2 linked regions of the Homo sapiens genome follow. The protein of the gene in region 1 purifies or fractionates together with the protein of each later gene. This does not show direct contact. Each region holds a gene or a part of one and is shown on either strand. Other genes may lie near its edges.

Region 1 (3,500 bases):
TCTTCGATCCTATTTGAAGAGTAGGAAGGAGAAATTTGCCTTCCCACTGCTGGATCTGTTCAACTAAGAGGCTGGACAGTAGAAATTACTTCTCAGTCCAGCCTATTCTCTAGGGCTCTCAGAATAGAACCTTCTCCTAGGATACATTCTGTAGGTGTCTTTTAATTCTTCAGCAGCCTACTATCTTAGTGAGGGGGAGAAGGAATTAGGAAGGTTCAGGCTTTTTTTCCCCGGCAGGTTAGAAATTGAGAGTCTGAGGTTTCTCACTGGGTACTGTCCTCAGAGAGTATGATGAAGCTCCCTCTGATACGGTTTTATCTTATGCCATTTGACACACATCCTTGCCCACTCTCTTTACTCTTCTCACAATCCTTTCAGGTTCAGAGGACTTGACATTTTCAGGTGCCTGGCAACTGGTTCTTATCATACAGATAGCTCTGCATGTTGAGTTTGTACTCTTGTTTTCACATTTTCATTTGTTCTTCTAAGATCTCCTTTAGAAGAATGATCATAGTCAAAATAAAAGGTTCTTTTTGTTTTCCTGCTGTGTCTGTGACCTTATAAACTAGATTTTCCTCCAAAATACACATCTGGGTATATGAATATGAAGCCAGAAATGCACTTTTACTATTAACCAGTAAGCTAATGGGCTTCACCAAACATCTGCTGTGAGTTGGGCACTAGACATTTTGGAAGAAATATGTAATAAAATGAAAACATGATCTGCCACACAACCATGGAATGATAATATAAACCATTTTCAACTCCATATTAGTGAGTACAGAATAACACAGTACATGTTGAAGGGGATTTAGTATAAGCAGATGATTAAGGTCTTTTTTTTTTTTTTTTTTTTTTTTTTGAGGCGGAGTCTCGCTTTCCCGCCCAGGCTTGAGTGCAGTGGTGCGATCTCAGCTTACTGCAACCTCCACCTCCCAGGTTCAGCTCAGCCTCCCGAGTAGCTGGGATTACAGGTGTGTCCCACCAAGCCTGGCTAATTTTTTCTTTTTTTTTTTTTGAGACGGTCTTGCTCTCTTGCCCAGGCTGGAGTGCAGTGGCGTGATCTCAGCTCACTGCAACCTCCACCTCCCAGGTTCAAGCGATTCTCCTGCCTCAGCCTCCCAAGTATCTGAGATTACAGGCACCCGCCACCACAGCCGGCTAATTTTTGCATTTTTTAGTAGAGACAGAGTTTTGCCATGTTGGCAAAGCTGGTCTCGAACTCCTGACCTCAGGTGATCCGCCCGCCTCGGCCTCCCAAAGTGCTGGGATTACAGGCGTGAGCCACCGCGCCTGGCCGAAATTCATCTTTTATTAAAAGGAGGTTGCAGTGAGCCGAGATCGTGCCACTGCACTCCAGCCTGGGCAACATAGCCAGTCTCTGTCTCAAAAAAAAAAGCCAATTATTCATCCATGGGCTTCAGTTTCCCCATCTGCTTCATGGGGGAACTAATGCTTTCTTCTTCTTCTTTAAAAAAGGTAACATTGGCTGGGTATGGTTGCTCATGCCTGTAATCCCAGTACTTTGGGAGGTCTAGGCAGGTAGATCACTGAGGTAAGGAGTTCAAGACCAGCCTGGCCAACATGGTGAAAACCTGTCTCTACTAAAAATAAAAAAATTAGTTGGGTGTGTTGGCACATGCCTGTAATCCCAGCTACTCGGGAGGCTGAGGCAAGAGAATCGCTTGAACCCAAGAGGCGGAAGTTGCAGTGAGCCAATACCAGCCTGGGCTATAGAGGGAGACTCTGTCTCAAAAAAAAAAAAAAAAAAGAAACTAGTTTTCTGAGGATGAGTAAGCATACATTTGACCCCCCCCCTTATAACCTTATAACAGCTCTGTGAGGAAAGCTATTATTGCCATTTCATGGATGAAGAAATTAAAGTACATACAGGGAGTAAATAGCTGCCTAATATCACAGCCTTTAGTAAGGGTCAGTGCCAGATTCTGTACTCACTTTTCTGATTTCAAAGCCTGTGGTGCTAATTTGTACAACACTACCTTGCCCTTTGGCAAGTATTTCTTTTGCTGAATAGAGACGTCTCCCATTCCCTTCTGAAAGGAAGACTCTTGTCCATGGAGATTTGTAATTTAGTAGGAGGAGCAGGTGTGCTGAGACTCAGGTGCAAAGATTTAAAAGAAAACAGACATGCTATTTCCACCCTAGGAAGAACTTGGATACTGAACATGTTTATTCTTGACGAGCATCAGTGGAGAGAGAAATAACTTGTTGCAAAATCCCTCCCCAGGAGCTCATTCGTATATTAGAAAGATCTAAGTAGTGAAGTAATGAATCCCGAACACTGGTTGTGATTGCAGTCTCTTGCTTTGCACTGTTGTAAGAACACTAGAGAAATTTTCCAGCTTCAAAGCTGCTTCCTGGTGGAATATTCCACTGGGTTTGTGAAGATCTTTTAATTTTTCTTTTTAAGACTAATAATGCCTATCATTGTAGAAAAAGTGTACACACTCTACCAGATGTGTACATTTTTGTTTTAGATGACTGAGTAAATCTTTGTTCTCTGGGGGACAGAAAGCTAAAATGAACCTTTGTGAACTTTATTCTGAAAATGTTTGGACATCTGAGTTATTCTGTACCCTAGGGTGGAGGTTGCTGTAATGTCTCAGTAAGTTCCGGTCTTGGTATTTCTCCCATTTGGTAATAGCATCTGACTCTAAGGTCAATTGCATAAACTAATTTCAGGTAACTTTCCTAGTCCCTTTGAAGGGTAACAGAATCATCCCTCCTAATTTGATAGTCTAACTAAACCTTTTATAAAAGGCAGCCCCATCCACCTCCTAACATGCCTCATAGATGGTAGTAGCAGAGGGAGTGGGGTGGCATTAATGTGAGGATCAACAAAATTAAAATGACACTTCATAAGGGTTGGTTTTGTTTAGTGCTGGTTTTCTTAAGGTAAACGCCTAATATAGTATGATGGTTTGAACTTTTAGGTGCAGTGAAAGATGGGGACAGTTAGTCAATTTAAGGCACATTAGTTCCTCTCCAAGGACTGACAATTTGTTGTTGGTTTTTGTTTTGTTTTGTTTTTGAGGTGGAGTCTTGCTCTGTCTCCAGGCTGGAGTGCAGTGGTGCGATCTTGGCTCACCGCAACCACTGCCTCCCAGGTTTAAGCGATTCTTCTGCCTCAGACTCCCAAGTAACTGGTACTACAGGTGCGTGCCACCACATCCAGCTAAGTTTTGTATTTTTAGTAGAGACAGGGTTTCACCATGTTGGCCAGGATGGTCTCGATCTCTTGACCTCGTGATCCGCCTGCCTCGGCCTCTCAAAGTGCTGGGATTACAGGCGTGAGCCACTGTGCCCGGCCAGATTTTTTTATTGGTATTTTATTTGGTAGTTTAGAATAAATCTCTGGTGTTTGCTTAAAAAAGAGTATATAGAGATGATGGTAGGAATTGGCCATTTATTCATTTTTCAAATGTTTGAGCACCACTATGTGCTAAAATGATTTTTGCCCTCAGGATGCTTATATACAC
Region 2 (3,500 bases), on another chromosome or scaffold:
AGCTGGGACTACAGGCACCCACCACCAGGCCCGGCTAATTTTTTTTTGTATTTTTAGTAGAGACGGGGTTTCACCGTGTTAGCCAGGATGGTCTCGATCTCCTGACCTCGTGATCTGCCCGCCTCGGCCTCCCAAAGTGCTAGGATTACAAGCGTGAGCCATTGCCTCTGACAAGAATCAATTTTGATGCAAAATTTACAACACATTTTTGTGCACTGGCTTCAGAATAACAATTTTCTACAATTAGCTTTGGAATTAGGGAGACGAATAGTTTCTTTGCTTTGATTTGTTTTGTTTTTTACCTTCCAGTACGGCTGTCTCCTCTTGCTTTTTGTCAAGCACTAGTTGCTCCATTTCTTTCCTTAGATCTTCCTGATTTAGGTTACAGGCATCGAAGGCATCACTGACAAACTCAGAAACACCTGGGCTAGTAGAAATTTCTTCCTCATCCTGAAATGCAACAAATGAGCTCTTGAAATGGTTTGCTAAGCGACATTTGTGTTATTCTGGTTTGCTATTGTCTCACAATTTAATGCCGTGCTATTTTTATTTCTTTTCTCTGCGAGCTGTAAGACAATGAGCACTGCTCTCCAACCTTCTAACTTGCAGTTGCTTGGTAACTACATGAGTTACCACCTGAGGCTATTATTCTCCTTCACAGTTTGAATCACTCCAACCCTTCTCTCCAATCCCTGATGAACACATCTAGAATTACATATGCCAGTAAATCGTCCTCAAGTCTCAGCCCTAGTTCCTTGACTATTCAAGTACCAGATGCTGCTTCTTCCAAACCCATATTCATACATAGTTTTAAATGGTATCAGAAAGAGTTAACACAGTTACTTTATTTCCAGATATCAACTACTAGGTACAATGTAAAACTGGATTACCTCTTGAGTTTTAAGCTGAGATTTGATTACAACGGGTGGCGTTTTGGGCCGTACTGCCTCTAAGAAGTGAGAATAAGAGAGACAATAATTGCTTGGTTCAGTTCTGAATACATATTATAATCACAGTAAAATATCCACAAGTATTATGATACTAAATAATTTTCAGAAATGAATTTTTATGTTATGCTTTCAGCTTTTCTTAAGTTATAAGAAACAGCCATGGTGAAACCATCTCAACCTCTTACTTTGGGGATATTTTTATCTATCTATCTACCTATCCATTTATTTATTTTTAGACATGGGGTGTCACTATGTTGCCCAGGCTGGACTCGAACTTCTGGGCTCAAGTGATCCTCCTGCCTCAGCCTCCTGGGGATATTTTTAACATGTCATCATATTCAATACATATCCTTACATAAAATTTCCAGCAGGAAATAATTTTTAACTACAGTGTTAGCAAAATTCATTGAAGAATAGTTCTGTACTTTTTTAGAATAATGAGAATTAAGCTATTTATCAAGTTTGCCTGCTGATAAGAGTGCTAGAAAAAGGCAGTCTTTATGGAATACTGTCATAAATCCATTTTGTTAAACAAGGCAGTATTTGGCAAAATGGCATTTTCCAACAAAATTAACATAAATGCTAAAGAATAACAGACAATTGGGATGCATGTTAACACTGATATACAAAATGACAAATTTTCCTGTGTAGAGCAACTTCACTCCATTTCCCTGACACTAACAGCAGTGTCAGATCCTGTCCTAGTATTCTGTATAACCTGTACCTCAGGACATGCTGTTTTGCTTAATCATTTAAAATTCCGTGAATTAAATCACCCCGCTTCTTGTGGGATAAATGTCCAGTTGTAATGAGTACCTACTATACACAGCAGGTACTCACTAAGAATTTAAACTATGACACAAAATGTGTTTCTTATTTTAATTATTACAGATTTCAAACAGCTGCCCTTATTATAAAACACATTCCCACAACCAGGGGTAAGTTAGTGTCACAATGAGTCCAATGTTCATCAGTGCCTAGCTCAGAACTAGATAGATCCTTGTAACTTGGGAGTGGAATGGAGCTTTGTTCTGCTCTACAGACTACACACACTGGAGAAACATCAGGTTGAAACAAACAAAAAGGAGGCGGACTGAATCAGGGTAGAGGACAGAAGTATAAAGAATCACATGGTTAAGGGCCAAAAATGAGAGGGGGGGAAGATGACGGATGTTTGAGAGAGAAATAAAACGAAAAAAAAACTCGCCAGGCACAGTGGCTCATGCCTGTAAGTCCCAGCTACTTGGGAAGCTGAGGCAGGAGGATCGCTTGAGTCTAGGAGTTTGAGGACAGCCTGGGCAACATAGTGAGACCCGTGTCTAAAAAAAAAAACAAAAACGAAAACAAGGAATGAGAAAGGAGATAAGCAAAGTAAAGGAAAGCTTGGGGAAGACATGTGTGAGCTGGGTCAGAGAGAAGGCAGTAAGAGAAAAATGAAGATTTCCTCTGGGAAGAAAAGAATTTTTCCCTAAGGCAATGACATTTCTGGTACGTATAAGAGGTCAAGCTCATTTGAGTCTCTAAGAACAACTTTTTCTGTAGAGTGCTGTCTTCTACCCAGAATATACCTGCCAGCGGCAAATCTTGCTCTCTGCCATTGCTCTTCTCCTCCTTCCCTGCGGCCTGCTGTTGGGCAGCCAGGGCCGTGAGCTGGGCTGACTGCTTAATCAGGGAGACGCGGTAAAAGTAGTTCCTCCAGAACACTTCTTCCTTCACACTTTTAAAGAAAGGCAAATTAGAACAGTGGAAAAAGGCAAAATTGAAAATCAATAAAAAGCAGACAGACAAGAACACATTTGAGAACGCACACAGACAAGTGCACGCAGGGGTTATTTGTTGTAAAGGGGACTGGAGTAGATGATTTGCAAGAGCACTTTCAAAGCTGAGTGAGGTTCAGAGGGGGTTCATATTGGCTTTAACAATTTTTTTTTTTTGACACGGAGTCTTGCTCTGTTGCCCAGGTTGGAGTGCAGTGGTGTGATCTCAGCTGACTGCAACCTCCGCCTCCTGGGTTCCAGCAATTCTCTTGCCTCAGCCTCCCGAGTTGCTGGGATTATAGGTGCCCGCCACCATGCACAGCTAATTTTTGTATTTTTAGTAGAGACGGGGTTTCACAATGTTGGCCTGGCTGGTCTCAAACTCCTGACCTCATGATCTGCCCGCCTCGGCCTCCCAAAGTGCTGGGATTACAGGCGTGAGCCACCGCACCCAGCCCATATTCACTTTAGAATTGAAAGCTAACAACAGGATAAACCTAACAGCTATCTTCCCCGTAGCAGCAAAATACAAGTTACAGAATACCAATGAAACCTCAGCATTTCTTGGTATCTTAATGATACCAATACTGCTCTCGGTAGAAGAAAACATGGCATTGTTGTGAAACTAGCATAATCAACCTGGGAAACCAGAAGCAGAGCCAGGACTCCACCAATCACTTGCTGTTTCTCAAGAGGATTAAATGCCTTCCAGCAGTGAGAAGCAAGCATTGTGGCTGTTGTTCCTTATGAAAGAGAATGTTTGGCAGCTTGCTAATAACTAGTAACCAGTAAG

The links. Proteins that work in one complex are often made in the same cells at the same time.
Region 2: the proteins of ETF1 (region 1) and SYAP1 fractionate together in Homo sapiens (co-fractionation; one large-scale study listed by BioGRID). This does not show direct contact.

Annotation. Positions count from the first base shown.
Region 1 is NC_000005.10:138,533,237-138,536,736, reverse strand, and holds part of ETF1 (eukaryotic peptide chain release factor subunit 1), read left to right. Parts: intron 1-3,500. UniProt on the Homo sapiens protein: Component of the eRF1-eRF3-GTP ternary complex, a ternary complex that mediates translation termination in response to the termination codons. The eRF1-eRF3-GTP complex binds to a stop codon in the ribosomal A-site.
Region 2 is NC_000023.11:16,754,112-16,757,611, reverse strand, and holds part of SYAP1 (synapse-associated protein 1), read right to left. Parts: intron 2,668-3,500; coding exon 2,519-2,667; intron 950-2,518; coding exon 891-949; intron 451-890; coding exon 303-450; intron 1-302.